2 separate regions of the Homo sapiens genome follow, and region 1 is linked to region 2. The links come from fine-mapping of genetic effects on gene expression. A gene starts in region 2. The other region holds a variant in brackets. All regions are shown on one strand. Distances are between the middles of the regions. Region 1 overlaps RAVER2 (ribonucleoprotein, PTB binding 2). Region 2 holds the start of JAK1 (Janus kinase 1).

What was found.
Region 1: its variant is fine-mapped to the expression of JAK1 in transverse colon (GTEx, PIP above 0.99). The same link has a PIP of 0.9 or more in subcutaneous fat and whole blood.

The regions. Positions count from the first base shown.
Region 1 is chr1:64,830,140-64,838,531 of GRCh38, reverse strand. RAVER2 (ribonucleoprotein, PTB binding 2) reads right to left here. Exons shown (of 12, transcript NM_001366165.2): 12 at 5,300-7,693. The coding sequence ends at 7,547. It overlaps JAK1 (Janus kinase 1), which reads left to right. Exons shown (of 25, transcript NM_002227.4): 21 at 1-67; 22 at 428-600; 23 at 2,317-2,434; 24 at 3,026-3,136; 25 at 3,875-5,303. The coding sequence ends at 3,970. Among named protein-coding and RNA genes, the nearest start is that of RAVER2, 89 kb to the right of the region's middle. The variant C/AATTC (reference allele first, on the strand shown) is at 4,664.
Region 2 is chr1:64,961,703-64,970,115 of GRCh38, reverse strand. JAK1 (Janus kinase 1) reads left to right here and starts at 3,567. Exons shown (of 25, transcript NM_002227.4): 1 at 3,567-3,783. RefSeq lists a silencer at 3,343-4,222 and an enhancer at 7,569-7,668.

The sequences.
Region 1 (8,392 bases), 130 kb after region 2:
TCTTCCAAAGAATAAGAACAAAATAAACCTCAAACAGCAGCTAAAATATGCCGTTCAGATTTGTAAGGTAAAAAATAAAGACATCATGTTACAGATTAAGACATCAGGCACTCTGTCCTGGGTAATTGGTTTGTAATTTGACTCTAAGTGGGTAAGTTTATGATAATTATACTGTTTGTTTTTCTCTGCATTATTTAGATGAAAAGTTAGCTTCTACTAAGAAAGTAAACGGATTTAAATATGGTTATTTTAATGTGTATTTATTTGAATCAGTTTGTTCTTAATATTCTTGCATAAAAGTCAGAACCAAAAAAATTGTCAGTGATATGTGAATGAAATGACATTTCTATTTTTTCTGATGAAGTGATAGATAATACAATCTAAAGTGACTTTAGCAATGTGCTTGACTTTTACTTCTCTCTCTCAGGGGATGGACTATTTGGGTTCTCGGCAATACGTTCACCGGGACTTGGCAGCAAGAAATGTCCTTGTTGAGAGTGAACACCAAGTGAAAATTGGAGACTTCGGTTTAACCAAAGCAATTGAAACCGATAAGGAGTATTACACCGTCAAGGATGACCGGGACAGCCCTGTGTTTTGGTAACTGAATCAAACCACTAGGTTTTATCAATGCTTCATAGAGTTTACACTGTTTTAATAGGCCCTTTCTGGCTATATTAATGTGTCTCATTCCTCTGGCCTGACTCAAGGTTAGAGAAGGTTTAGAACATTTGGAATTGATTGATATTTATCTTCAAGAAACACACCTTTCAGCCTGTTTCATTGAAAGCAGCCTATATAAATGACTGAGCTTCATATGACACCGTCTTCCAAGGAATGAAAGAAATCTAACCACCAGCTCAACATTCCTAGCTTTCCAGGAGAGGGCATTCATCTGATGCAGTTCTTAAAACTGTGAGCAGGTGGAGAGAATCTAGTTCCTTTCTTAAACACATTCCTGCAGAGGGAGGCTGTAGGACAGAGTGGGCATTGCAGATTCAGGGAACTCCTGGACAGAGCAGAGCAAAACCTACGGGAGACCTGGCTGTCTCATGAATCACCAGAGGTTCCCAGGTTAGAAGGCCACACACTGGCTACAACCATGTCTCAGCCGGGAACACTGTCCAGGGGAGAGGCTGCTTACATCTCTACCGCACCCTGCCACGTAACCACATAACGACATAACCAATCAGCACTCCCCTAGGTGCATCCTACATGGACACAAACATAGACCTCTCCCACTTATGGAGCCTAAACTTACTCATTCATTCATTTAAGAAAATGCATCAAGGTCCTGCTTTGTGCCAGTACTGGAGATATGGTGAACAAGTAGGCCGAGTTTAGAGTTTAACAGGCTAGGCAGCCAACGGCATGGAGCAGGAAACATACAGAAGGGTTCGGGCTTGGTTTTCTGGAAGTCGTGAGTATTCAGAAGAAACCTGAAAGATTCATGCGGGTTTAGACAGACGGTTGCTAGACAGCATGCGTGACTAGGAAGAATGAGACAAGAGCAGTCGATTTCCCAGGAACTGAACCTCAGTGAGGTCAGATCATGGAATAGGAGGTTTGCAGGAGGAAGCTTGAGTCATGGAGCTGGGACTTCATCTCAAGAACAATGGGATGCTGCTGGAGAGTTTAAGGAGGGAGACTTTGTTTTAAAAAGACCACCACTGAATGAAGGGAACAAGATTGGAGCCAGGGAGTCTGGAGCCAGGGAGTCTGGAGCCAGGGAGTCTGATTTGGCTGCTTCAACAGCTCAGGCCAGAGCTAGTGACAGCATGAATTAGGACAGGGACTGGGAGAGTGACAGTAGGGTTTGAGAGAAGTGAGTAGGTTCAAGGAGTATATAAGGAGATTGGGTGCGGTGGAATGCCTTCATTTTTGGCTTGGGCAAGTGGGTGTCATTCAGCAAAGTAGGCAATGCTGGAAGAGGATTGGACAGCGATGCCACATTGTGCAGTGAGGCCACTGCTGTCTCATTTAGAGCCTGCAGGCAAATCAGACCTGGGGCTCATCATTACACGGCCACCTCCTCCCATACCCTGAGAGCATGTTCTCAGTGAAATGAAGAGCACAGACTTGGCGTGTTATTTTAGGGCAGATACGTGCTACCGAGAGCCTGTAAAGGATACCGTACTATAGGTCAGATGTGCACCATAGCAGCGTATACATGGTATGTGTAAAATATATAATACACAGTCAGATGCTGTATTAAATTATAAGAAAAACCGAAGAGGTGATTTTTCAGTTATCCTGTAATGTCGGATGGAGTGTGCCTCCCAGGAAATGAAGTTTTGTGTTCTGCTTCCTTTCAAGGTATGCTCCAGAATGTTTAATGCAATCTAAATTTTATATTGCCTCTGACGTCTGGTCTTTTGGAGTCACTCTGCATGAGCTGCTGACTTACTGTGATTCAGATTCTAGTCCCATGGCTGTAAGTCCTACTTTTCTCTTCATTTGAATCCAGTACCCATTTAAAATGTGTCCATCCCTCTGCTTGGTTAACTTTTGTTTTTAAATGGAATCCAATGAATGTATTATAATGGAAAATGTCACTTTCCCATTAACTTGGTTTGCTACTTGACAGTTATTTGTGAATCTCTAAAGTCTTGCTTTCACAACGAGCCCGGAGTTCTATAGGATGACCTTGACTCTCAAGGATCTTATCTGTGTAGAGATGAAGGGCAGTTTTATGGGAAAATGAGCAAGTTAAGTGGGGTAGCACTGGGTAGGGACCAGCCTTGTCTGTGCCTCCTTCATTCCTAAATCAGATCATTTTCTTGGGAACAGACTCCTTGACCAGCACAAGCACAAGGAGTGGTTGGTAGAGTCTAAGACACTGGTTAGAGACAGATCATTGAAAGCTAATAAGGATTTTGGATTTTTATTTAAAGTTACTAAGGAGAAAAGCCTTTTTATTGCTACTTAAATTTCCAGTTGATTGTAGAAATTTCACCTTAATCTGTTTGGCATTTATGTAAATACTTGCAAAGTTAAACGTTTTGTTTGATTTTATTTTATATAGTTGTTCCTGAAAATGATAGGCCCAACCCATGGCCAGATGACAGTCACAAGACTTGTGAATACGTTAAAAGAAGGAAAACGCCTGCCGTGCCCACCTAACTGTCCAGATGAGGTATCTATGGGCCACGTCACAGTAATAACACTCCATTTCTATTATGTTTTCGCAGCTTGAGTTGTCCAGCAATGGGTAGAGGGGAGAGCGAGGAAATGATGCAGTGAAGTCCTTGTAAAATAGTTTTCTGAAGCTGAATTTCACATAAGATAACTGAGAAATCGCCTTTGGGGCTAGATGATAGCCACCAGTTAGGTTCAGAGCAAGGATTCCCTCCAAAAGCCAGCCCCTCTTTATCCACTTGCTTGCCCCAGAGGGACAGGTTTTGGTGTAGCCTTAGTGTGACAAATACATATAATTGCATTTTTTGTGTGTAAGTTTATCCCACTTATTAGCATTTATAATTCAGTTTTCTAAGTGAATTGAGCCTTTAATACTAAACTCTTGAGACTGTGTAAGACACACTGAACAGTATGAGTCAGAGAGTGAGGCAGCCAGTCTGGAAAGTTCAAGTCTGAACTGAGATTCTGCTTCACCCTCTAACTGGTTTACAGGAATGACCTGGATTTTATTGCAGCCAGTCAACCCTTGAGCTTCTCAAATGTTAAAATATTATTTATGAACTAGAGTTGTATCCCATTTTCTGTGTTTTAAACTATTCAAATACTCTTGTTTTTCTAGTCTTTAAGGAAAAGTCATTGCATTTCCAAAATTATTTTCTTACTCTTGATATTTCTGTTATTTTTTAAAGTTCCCAGATCTAACATTTTTACTGTTGTTACTTCTTTCTTTTTACAGGTTTATCAACTTATGAGGAAATGCTGGGAATTCCAACCATCCAATCGGACAAGCTTTCAGAACCTTATTGAAGGATTTGAAGCACTTTTAAAATAAGAAGCATGAATAACATTTAAATTCCACAGATTATCAAGTCCTTCTCCTGCAACAAATGCCCAAGTCATTTTTTAAAAATTTCTAATGAAAGAAGTTTGTGTTCTGTCCAAAAAGTCACTGAACTCATACTTCAGTACATATACATGTATAAGGCACACTGTAGTGCTTAATATGTGTAAGGACTTCCTCTTTAAATTTGGTACCAGTAACTTAGTGACACATAATGACAACCAAAATATTTGAAAGCACTTAAGCACTCCTCCTTGTGGAAAGAATATACCACCATTTCATCTGGCTAGTTCACCATCACAACTGCATTACCAAAAGGGGATTTTTGAAAACGAGGAGTTGACCAAAATAATATCTGAAGATGATTGCTTTTCCCTGCTGCCAGCTGATCTGAAATGTTTTGCTGGCACATTAATCATAGATAAAGAAAGATTGATGGACTTAGCCCTCAAATTTCAGTATCTATACAGTACTAGACCATGCATTCTTAAAATATTAGATACCAGGTAGTATATATTGTTTCTGTACAAAAATGACTGTATTCTCTCACCAGTAGGACTTAAACTTTGTTTCTCCAGTGGCTTAGCTCCTGTTCCTTTGGGTGATCACTAGCACCCATTTTTGAGAAAGCTGGTTCTACATGGGGGGATAGCTGTGGAATAGATAATTTGCTGCATGTTAATT[C/AATTC]TCAAGAACTAAGCCTGTGCCAGTGCTTTCCTAAGCAGTATACCTTTAATCAGAACTCATTCCCAGAACCTGGATGCTATTACACATGCTTTTAAGAAACGTCAATGTATATCCTTTTATAACTCTACCACTTTGGGGCAAGCTATTCCAGCACTGGTTTTGAATGCTGTATGCAACCAGTCTGAATACCACATACGCTGCACTGTTCTTAGAGGGTTTCCATACTTACCACCGATCTACAAGGGTTGATCCCTGTTTTTACCATCAATCATCACCCTGTGGTGCAACACTTGAAAGACCCGGCTAGAGGCACTATGGACTTCAGGATCCACTAGACAGTTTTCAGTTTGCTTGGAGGTAGCTGGGTAATCAAAAATGTTTAGTCATTGATTCAATGTGAACGATTACGGTCTTTATGACCAAGAGTCTGAAAATCTTTTTGTTATGCTGTTTAGTATTCGTTTGATATTGTTACTTTTCACCTGTTGAGCCCAAATTCAGGATTGGTTCAGTGGCAGCAATGAAGTTGCCATTTAAATTTGTTCATAGCCTACATCACCAAGGTCTCTGTGTCAAACCTGTGGCCACTCTATATGCACTTTGTTTACTCTTTATACAAATAAATATACTAAAGACTTTACATGCATATGCCTTTTAATATTAAGATTTCATTTTCAAAGCATTTCAAACAATTTGCTTACATAGAAAAATAACAGTATAGTTTTGGGGGGAGGAAGGGGTGGGTTACGGTCCTTACTACTAACAAACAAACAAACACCACTTGATTTGCACTTCTTCACTGTTGTGCCCAGTGATTGATAACGGGGCACAGGCCAGTATGGATGGCATGTCCACTGTGCTGTAGTCCAGACACCTTTGTTTGTTTGTTTTAGTTCCTTCAACCTCTTCCTGCTTTGACTGACTGACTTTTTGCAGCTCTGTTGCAAAATTCACCATCTTTCCTTTCTTCTGTTTGTTTGTTTGTTTGTACTATAGTGGAGGTGTGACTAAGCATTGAAGAGGCTGAATGCAACAGGAAAATGGGAAAGAGAAGTGCAGGGCCTGAAAAACCCATTAGTCATCTGCTATATCACTGAATGATGCCTAATTCTTATCAGTTACTTATAGGTAGTATACTTAGAAATTACCTTAAACTTTCTAGCTGTCAGTCATTTTCCAACAGAAGCTAGTATATGCAATAAATTAGACCAAGTGAAATTCTTTACAAAGCATACAACATATGTACCAATTCTAGACTTCATAATTAAAACAGGATATCCACATCATAGTTAAAAATAACAAGTCCCCAAAGTGACGAGATATTTAATGATCTGATTTCAAAAAGCCCCGGATTGAGATCCCAAATTCCCTATCAATTAATTACAGTCTTATAACATAAACAAACTTAGAAATTTCTAGATGGCAAAAGGTTTCTCATGCATTTAATACCAAGGTCTTCAAGAAATGGTGATGTCAAAAGTCATCATAGTCCATAAAGATAAAACTTCTTTCACAAGTAAATTGGGTTAAATAACTGATTTTTCACCCTAACACACTATCAAAAAGAGTGAGAGAGAAAGCAGAGAGTGAGGTATAGCTTATTAGCTCAAAATGGTTATAAATACTGTGACTCCTTAAGACTCCATCAGAAAGTGCAGTATTGACTGCTTTACTATACTATATTGTGGAAATAATAGGGCATTTAGTGATCAAAATAGGCCCCATTCTAGTCATTAGATCATTACTAGTCTACGCTATGAAATGAGCACAGAAACCCATGTTCCTTTCCACTTACAAGTCTGTCTAAAGGCTAAAGGTCTGTCTTTAGGTGAATTGAAAGGAATAGTTGCTATTAGAATTAGTGCTATTAGATCAGGGATCAGCAAACTATATATAAATGGCCAGATACTTGAAATTTTAGGCCATATGGTCTTTGTAGGCCATACAGTCTCTGTTGAAGCTAATCAGTTCTGCCCTTGTAGCGTAAGAGTGCCACAGACAACACGTAAATGAATGAGCATGGCAACGTCCCAATAAAAGTTTATTTATGGACACTGAAATCTGAATTTCATATAAATTTCATGTCATAAGTTTTCTTTTTTCCTCCAACCATTTAAAAATGTAAACATTAGTCTTAGCTTGCAGGCAGCACAAAAGCGGGTGGTAGACCAAATGTGGACCCAGGGTGTAGTTTGCCAAACCCTTTTATTAGATCACCAAAGTTACTTTTCTTAAAATACCTTCTATTTTTCACAGAAGGTATAAATGGTAAACAACATCTTAAAGCATCGGTAGTAGTGGATACCTTGGATATCACTGTCACTCTCTTACCGGGTTTAATTTTGCATGGCTGGTGTGGGCGTAATTGAGTGTGCATGTAGAGCATCTTTATAATATTACCATCAGCACATTTGGTACTTGCACCCTTGTAGTTCTAGGAAAAGTCCTAAAAATCTATAAATGCAATTACTTCTAGGGAAAGTAAATTGAAATGCACATTGGCTTATAAGAAACTCATTCTTCTAAGGCTCAGGAAACAACACTGTTTCCCATTTATTGCTTCAAACTTCTTTTATATATGGTGTCAGAATTATTCCCAGTCCTAAATCAAGGAATATTGGAACATTGTTAGTTTCTCCAATGGATTGTAAGTTAGCACACTGATTAAGATGCATCTGACTCTAGTGGAAAATGTCCTCAATTGATGTCTCTTCTTATTGCTATTTTTTATTTGGCATTTCTGCCTGCTGCACAACACAGTTCCTTCTGGGAAACTATAAACCCGTATTTAAAGGATATGGCTAGTTTGAATGAAGTTAAGGCAGCGATGAACAGCAGAGATACTGCAGAGAACCTTAGGGGGTTATTAGGAGAGAGCTTAACTCAGTATACTCGCTTCTTTTTTAAGTAAGTTTCCATGTAATATGCTCCTGTGCCCTGAGAATGCTGGTCAACACATTCCACTGAACCACCTTCTGGGGCAGAGATGAGATATGATGAGCCTCGCTTTTCATTTCTTAAAGATGACACCTATGAGAAAATAAAATTGCAGCTAGTTTTAAAATCTAAAGTTGGCTTATTCATTAAAGATATTTATAAGAAAAGCATTCCACTTTGACTTGGTGAATATAGAATAACAGGATAAATACCCAAACTATCAAAAAATACACAAACCCCTTTGTTAAATAAGACTTTTAAATTTCTGTATCAACATCGCCTTTGGAATTTCTGCAAGACACAAACCAGTCTCAGCACCTTCACTCCCAACCCCAACTTTTTGGGAAAAGAAAAAATTAGAGCACTGCATGCAGCTGCTTCTGCTGATCACAGCTAGTTAAACCCACGGACTCAGAATATCAACACCGAATGTCAGTATTCCTCTGAAGGAGGAGTGGCTAAGACATCAAGCTGCATATTGAATTAGATGTTAAGTGTGCCTGGTGACAAGAGGAGTGGTGAGAGAATAAATCAATAGGTGTAGAAACTGACAAATGACATCAAAGAAAACAACATGAAACATTCTAGAGAGCAATGGGAAACTCAGAGCTTTGGTCTCCACAATAATCGCCTGGCGAGCATATTAAAATGCAGGTTTTCAGGCACCATCCCAGAGATTCTGACCTGAAAGTGGGCCACATGTCCTCACAAGTGGTCACAGTGATCAGCACAGTAAATCAGATGGTGTAGCACTGCTCAGCTTAATGCCTCTTAGTTTCAGCTTTTACAAAA
Region 2 (8,413 bases):
TTTCCCAGGCTTCAGTGCAGTGGCACCATACTAGCTCACTGCAGCCTTGATCTCCTGGGCTCAAGTGATCCTTCCACCTCGACTCCTGAGTAGCTGGGACCACAGGCATGTGCCACCACACTCAGTTATTTTTTGTATTTTTTGTAGATACAGGGTTTTGCCATGTTGCGCAAGCTGGTCTCATTTTGAACTCCTGAACCCATTTTGAACTCCTGAACTCCCAAAATGCTGGGATTACAGGTCTAAGCCACCACGCCTGGCTCAGTGACTGTTTAAAACTTTCCTCTTCTCAAACATAAAACTGAATTTCTTATCCTGTTTAGTCGGTGGCATCCAGTCGGTGGCATCCTTGGTCAGCTTATTAACCAATTCAGAAAATTTGGGAGTCATGCGAGATTCCTCTCTCTGCCTCAGTAGCCACATCTAATCAGTCACCAAGCACTGTCCATTCTATCTCCTCAGGCCTTTTGCATCTTCCTCAGTATCCTTCCCCAGTCCACTGCCTTAGATAGGCTGTCATCTCTCGCAGCTTGCAGTTTTACAATGACATGTAATTAATCTCCTTGCCCTCCAATTCATCTTCCACATTATCCCTAGACTAGTGGTTCTCAGTGGGGTGTGATTTTGCACCCCAGGGGACATTTGGCAACGTCTGAAGACATTTTTGGAAGTCACAGCTGGGAAAGGAGGAGGGTGGGGAGTTGCGGGGGGGTGTGATGGGGGAACAAGAGGACTTGCTACTAGCACCTAGTAGTCAGAGGTCAGAGATGCTGCTAAACATCCTACAATGCACAGGACACCCCCACTACAACAAGAATTTTCCAGCCCACAATGTCAATAGTGCTGAGGTTGAGAGCCCTTGCCCTAGGGTGATTCTTCTAAAACAAAAACCTTAAATCTCTCAAAAAAAAAAACCCACTATTTTATTTTAGGCAAAAGTTTTTGCATGGGATTCAACTTTTCTCATTCCCCAGTCACACAGCATATACTTATTTTTTTTTTTTAAGAGAAGGGGTCTCACTCTGTTGCCCAGGCTAAAGTGCAGTGGTGTGATCCTAGCTCACTGCAGCCTCAAACTCCTGGGCTCAAGTGATCCTCCAGCATCAGCCTCCCAAGTAGTCGGAAATACAGGCATGTGCCACCATGCCCAGCTAGTTTACCTTTTTTTTTTTTTTTTTTTTTTTGAGAGGGAGTCTCGCTCTGTCGCCCAGGCTGGAGTGCAGTGGCACAATCTCAGCTCACTGCAAACTCTGCCTCCCGGCTTCAAGCGATTCTTGTGCCTCAGTCTCCCAAGTAGCTGAGATTACAGGTTCCCGCCACCACGTCCAGCTAATTTTTGTATTTTTAGTAGAGATGGGGTTTCGCCATGTTGGCCAGGCTGGTCTCAAACTCCTGACCTCAAGTGATTGGCCCACCTCGGCCTCCCAAAGTGCTGGGATTACAGGCGTGAGCCACTGCACCTGGCCTTTGTTTGTTTGTTTGTTTTTATTTTAGAGACAGGGTCTTGCTGTGTTGCCCAAGTTGGTGTCAAACTCCTGGCCTCAAGCAGTCCTCCTGCCTCAGCCTCCCAAAGTGCTGAGATTACAGGCATGAGCCGCCACACCCAGCCAGCATATACTATTACTGCCTGAATATGCCGCTACCTCCTGACTCCTGCCTCCTGTCGGCTACTTGAAGCTTATTCTGACTTCCTCAGACTCGGCTGGGTGACTGTCTTCTGTGATCACCATTACAGGACCGGGAATCACTGAATTGTTACTTGCCTGTCTCTCTGACTGCATTGAGCATTCAGAGGTCAGGAACCTAGTCTATTTTTTTTTTCTCTGAATCTTCATCACCTAGCACAATGTCTGTTATAGACGAACAGATCTAAACTGAATCCAGGCCCTCTCCCCCTGATTCCACCCTGTGAACAGCCAGATTCGTTCGTGGGCACAATGGGTTCACTGCTGCCTTCCTGACTTTCCTTTTTCTTTACATCCTCACCTGAAATGCTGTTCTTTCACGTCTCTGTCTCCCTTCATGTCAGTCTCACCTGTTCTTTATGGTCCAGCTCAATAAAAACCCCTACCACTTCCTGAGCCCATGCCATGTGGGCTATATTATCATAGTTCACCTTCAGCAAAACCCCTTTAAGGAAGGCATTATCCCTATTTAACAGGTGAAGAAAATGATGCAAACAGCCCTGAGGTGTTGTTCAGAGTGTGGCAGATGAGACAAGACTTGCACACAAACACCCACAATGCAGGCAACCCGGGTTGCCTCCCTGTCTGCTCTGATCTCCGGTCTTCTTTGGTCCTCTTTTCTGTACTTCTGGAAGGCACTTTGGAGATCCTTTTGTCTGCTGCTCCACTGAGAATTGAGTCAACTAAGAATTGTTTAGGGCAACACAGGTGGTTACTGGTGGAGGCCAAACCTCAAATTCAGTAGTCTAATTCGGATGCTTGACTTTATTCCACACCCAGAATATCTTGCTCAGTTTCAGTTGCAGTAACTCAAGTGATCAGGAACTGTCCAGCAGGGTTAGTGAAGTCAGCACAGGTGGGGCAGCCTCTGTCCACAGCCCTGAAGCTGCAGAATTCTGACCGTGCACGGCCTCGGAGGATTTTCATCCAGGGATTGTCAGGGGGAAGTCGCTGGAGTGTTTTAAGCATGGGAGTGTGTGGAACAGATTTGAATTTTTAAAAGTTCATTGTAGAGAATTAATTGGGGGCTGGAGTGAATGGAGTGACGATTTAAGAGATGTTCGTGGTCCCTTCAGGTGAGAGATGGTGGCAGCTCGGACCGTGTTGCCGGAACATAGACAAGTGAACTGATTGGAGAGATACCTAAGGAAATAAAATTGTTAGGATTTGTCCGTGGACTGCCTACGAAGTATGAATCTTGGCTACAGTGTGACCTTGATTAAGACACTAAAGACTTAATTTGTTCCTCATGGATAAGATGATGCTACTACTTTGAGAGGTTATTAGTAAAAAATGAAAAGCGCTGTACATGCATTAGGTATCAGTGAATGTAGTTCTAATTCCTATTATGCATATGCTTTTTTTTTTTTCGTAAAGAGCTTTTAAAATACGGAATGGGTTGGATCTGCAGTAGCTTGTCCAAGCTGGGGGCTGTATTGTTAAATTCTTTTTAGTCTAGTGCTCCACTAGCTCCTCTCCTACTGAGCTGGGGTAAGAAGCGGAGCGTATACGGAGGAGGCGGGATGCATTTCTGCATCGAGCGCACAAAGGTGTGGCGGAGGGGGCTCCAGAGCTGGGAGGGGTCAATCTACGGGCGAATCCTGGCAATTTTACTCCCCGCGATAGATGACCTCGCGTCCTAGATGAGTTTCTAGATTCTAGAATCTAGAGGACGCGGTGAACAGAGACGAGTGGGGGCAGCTTCGCGAGCGAAGCCGGATGGGGGCGGGGCGGGTAGGCCGGAGGCGCAGAGTCTCCGCCGGGACCGCGACCCCGCCCCGCTTTCCGGGGCTGCCGCTGGTGACGTCGCGAGGGGGTGGGCCCGGCGGCCACGGGGGTGGGGCCGGCCGCGGGGCGGGGCGGGGCGGGACGGGAGGCGGTGCGTCGCTGAGCGCAGGCCGCGGCGGCCGCGGAGTATCCTGGAGCTGCAGACAGTGCGGGCCTGCGCCCAGTCCCGGCTGTCCTCGCCGCGACCCCTCCTCAGCCCTGGGCGCGCGCACGCTGGGGCCCCGCGGGGCTGGCCGCCTAGCGAGCCTGCCGGTCGACCCCAGCCAGCGCAGCGACGGGGCGCTGCCTGGCCCAGGCGCACACGGAAGTGGTGAGTGTCACCGGGGGAGGTGGAGGAGCCGGGGCGGCCGCGGTCGGCAGGCGAGGGGCGCGCAGCCCGGACTGGCCGGAGGCGCGGCCACCGCTCTTGGTCGGTCCTTAGGCTGCGCGGCCCGGGCTGCTCCTGAGCGCAGCTCAGGACCCCGCGGCTCGGGCGGGGAAGGCGGGGATTTCCAGCCCCGCGGAGCCGGCGGGCGGCGAGGAGGTCGCCGGGCGGGGGCCCCCGGCCGGGAGAAGAGCGGTTAAGCCAGGCCGCCCCCTCCCCCAGCGCGCACGGCAAGTTTTCATAAACAAGCCCGGAGCGCGCTGTCTGACATCCTGTTTATACCACCCCGAGATACAGGCGCGGGCTGGAGGGCTGACGTCCCTAGCTCCTTGTACCGCGAACTTGACCGCCAGCTCCCGGCCGGGGTGGCAGCGCAGAAAGGTTTTCTTCTTCGGCCCCAGGAAGGAGGCTGAGGGTCTTAGCTTTTTTCCTTCCTTGCGGTCTCAGCGAGGGAAAGTTTCTGGGATTTGGAGCTGGGTGTTGGGCGTCCGCGAACTCGGGAAACGCCCCCTCCCCTCTTAGGTTCTGTTAGGAACCAGGCCTCAGGTAGCCAGCGAGAAGTGGGAAAGGAGACCCTGGGCGAGAGGACCAGGGAAGGGGAACAGTGGGAGAGAACTACCCGGGGAATTGCGAATCCCACTGGAAAGGGACTGATTAACCGAAACTGGGGCTGGTCTCTGGCTCCCTCACTCCAACTCCATCCGCGCATCGTCGGCGACCGGGAGCATCGGAGGACTAATAGACACTCCTCCAAAGTCACTCCCCAGGGTCCCTGGGATGTGGGCTCCTTGGATGTGTGTTTACCACGGAACTTCTAGATAAAAGATGCGATGTTTGCCAGGTGTTTGTGCACACGTTTTTTGGAGGGTTTGCACTCCATGATTTCCTGTGTGTTCCTGGGGAAGGGGACCCCGTCCTTCCTGCCACTCTTCTTACTACGTGGCTGTGAGCTGCCTTCTGCCCCTGGTTGAGTACATCGCTATACATGTCATTGACACTTTTCCCCCCAAGTCATAGGGTTTTTCTCTCACTGGCAGGAATTTACAGTGGTATAAAATTGTCATTACTTCTTTCAGGGAGTAAAACATGGGTAGTTAAGTGATGAGAATAATGCAGAGAGAGATGTAAATCAGGGCGTGTTTGGTTTTGGCTATTTTTTTATTTTTTGAAGAAAAGATTTGAGTTAAATATGGGTATAGGCACAGTAGATTTTGTTTAAGATGAGCAATTCGTATTGATTGAATCTTTGTTCTTCCCTTTCCAAAACCCCATTATGTGTTGTTTCTTGATTTTGCTTTTGGTGACTCTGATGTTTTCCAAGACCAGGGGATTATTTTCATTGAAGGATCAATGTGTTCTTTTGTACTTTGTGGTGAAGATTAATGGAGACCACCAGGGTTCCAGACATTTCTGGTACAATATGCTTTGTAATGTGGAGAAAATGTCTCCCCTGTATAGATCCAGATCACATTTAAAGATGTGAAGACATCATACTGGAATGACTTTGGACATTATAAATAGGAATAATCATAACCTCTTCTTAATTCTGTATATCATATTAACTAAGTGCTTTGACTGAGTCTTAGTTTCTGCAAATAGATACAAAACTATGTTTTTTTACTGCTAGGATTGCAGTGTGATACTCCACACTGAATACAGCCAGTTTAAATGGTTTCCTCCATTTCATACTATACTAATTATTTACTACCATTGGGAAATGATTGTAGAGAATGCATAAATTAGATATAGGTAAAATAATTCAAACATTTCCTAAAATATAACTACATTTCAGTTGTTGTAATTTAGGATCTTAACATGAGCTTGGCTAAAGCCATATACTTCCGACTGAAACAAGCATTGAGAACGTGTAGGTTGATACTCATTTGTGTAGAGAGAACAAGAGAACACTAAGGTATAACTGCATAGCAAAGACCATGATCTGTGTTTTCTAATTCTCAGATTCCTCTGGTGTTTTTTTCCCCTCAAAGACACATCCCATTTTGTATGTCCTTATGTCCTGATAAGATAATAGCATGCTGTTAGAAGATTTATTGTCTGAGATGTGAATATTCATACAAATAAATTTTTCTTGTTCATTTTCACATTTAAAACCATTATTTTAAGTGGATGGGGAATTGGCTTATTAATGGAATCTCGCTGAAGAAGGAACATTGGATGTTCTGTGATTATTGTGGCTCAGTGGTATATGGAACCTTGTCATTGAACAGGAGTGTTGGAAGGAACTTTCAGATTTTTTTAGACTAGTAAGGGTATGATTTTGCACCCAATGAGATATTTGCAGTTTCTGGAGACATTTTTGGTTGTTACAACTTGGGGGAAGGGAGCGGTGCTACTGGTAGGCATCTAGTGGTTAGAGGCTAGGGATGCTACTAAACATCCTATAACGCACAAGACAGCCCCCCATCCCAAACAAAGAATTATCCATCTCAGTAGTGCCCAGGTTAAGAAGTCCTGCTTTGGAATACTGAGTAAGGAGCAAGAAGATCTGGGCTCTTGTGGCAAATTTTTTCACTTCAGGGCACCTCTTTTCTTCATTTGCAAAATGGAGATAAAAATATTCTCCCTGGTCATCTCGCAGAGTTTTGGGGGGAAGTCAGGTAAATAATGCATGGAAACTGTGACGTGCTATGCAAATCATAACTAATATGAAGAGTATTTTTCATAAGTGAATCATTAGATTTACCGGTAGTTGAGGGAACCAGGGTTAAGGCAATATGTTGAGTAAAAAGCCGCCTGTGGATGGTTTGATATTATCGAATTCTTTGTTATTCATTTTTTGGGGTAAAGGTTTTTTTAGTATACTTAGTTTTCTTATTGTCAGAACATGTACTTTTTAGCTCTATAATTTCTTTAAGCAAAGGTTATTTTTCCCATCATAACAATAAGGAGAATTCACTATAGAAAAATTAGAAAATATAGGAAAGTAGAAAATAGAGGGAACAAGTCATTCATGCTCTACTCGCTTGTCCATTTAAGCACACTCACATCCTTGCCAATTTCTTTTCTATAAGAGCAGTTAGGATTCAGAGAATGATGAGAGAGAGTAGCTGGTGACCAAGGAAGGTGTTCCTTGTTTCTGTGCCCTTCATTTCTTTCTTTTTTAATAATTACGATGTAAAGGTAAATTACATTATAGTAGGCATCAGAGACATCGGTTCATTGTTTTTATTATTATTTTTATTTTTCGAGATGGTGTCTCACTCTGTCGCCCAGTCTGGAATGCAGTGGCACAGTCTAGGCTCACTGCAACCTCTGCCTCCCAGGTTCAAGTGATTCTCGTGCCTCAGCCTCCCGAGTAGCTGGGATTACAGGCACGTTCCACCATGCCTGGGTAATTTTTGTGTTGTTTTTTAGTAGAGATGGGATTTCACCATGTTGGCCAGGCTGGTCTAGAACTTCTGATCTCAAGTGATCCGCCTGCCTTGGCCTCCCACAGTGCTGGGATTACAGGCGTGAGCCACCGCGCCTGGCCTGGTTCATTGTTTTTATACTTTCCTTGCTGCCTCCAAGCCATGTTCTCATTCAGCTTGTTTCCTCTCTGCTTCTTACTCTCCCCCGTGCTCAGCTAGGTGTGCCACTGTTGCTTCCTGTCTCAGAAACCCTCTGGTTACATGGGATTTCAAACAGCTGTCATGTTGAAATGACTGGGTTTCAGGGACCGGAAACTAATTCCTGTGAGTATTCTTTCCTCTGAGGTGCACCAGCCTTCTTGGCAGTTTAAGGCGACAGGAAAGCATAAAACATTAAGCTCATTTCCGTGATACCTCCACTTCTGAGGGTTTATGATCCATGATTCTTTGTAGTTGGCAGTGGGCACACATTCTTCCTTGGTGCTCTGCGGATAAACTGCCCAGTCCCGAGGCAAGACCTGCTTTAGAAGCAAAAGGATAATTTCTTTTAAGTCTACTCTGGCCAGAAGATAGAGCTGGCGTTTGTTGGGATATTTTTAATCTGCAGTAACTGAATTTATTTAACAGTACTATTCACACTAGCATTTTATACATTCTTTTATTCATTTAGCAAATACTTGTTGAGCTCTTGCAGTGAATCTCAGAGAGTGAATAGACAGACAACAAAACAGGTACAAATCTGTCCTCGTGTGGAATTTACAGTCTAGTGGAAGACCCTGAGGGCATGTTCAGTTTTACAGTTGCAGACTATATGCATGTAAAAGAGTAAATCTTTGTGATTGTAGAATGTTTCCTAGAACCCTTCATGGCACTCCTTTGAAGTTTGAGGACTAGGAAGTAGCTTCCCCTTGTTATCTTTCTTTTTTTAATGTTACAGATTAATTCATTCTTTGTATGCACAGACATCTCTTTGGTACCTATTAAGTGCCTGGCAGAAGGATAAGACATAGTTTATATGGAAATAAACTTGGTATACATGGCTGTAACACATTGTGGGTGATGCTGTAGTAGCAGTCAGAATTAAGAGCTCCAGGACCCTGAAGAGAGCTAATTCCTGCGTGGAGCCCTTGTCAAATGCTTTTTTGAAGAGGCTTCATTTGAGTTGGGCCTTCAGGAGTGAGTAGGAGTTCCTTTGTTTTAGGGTG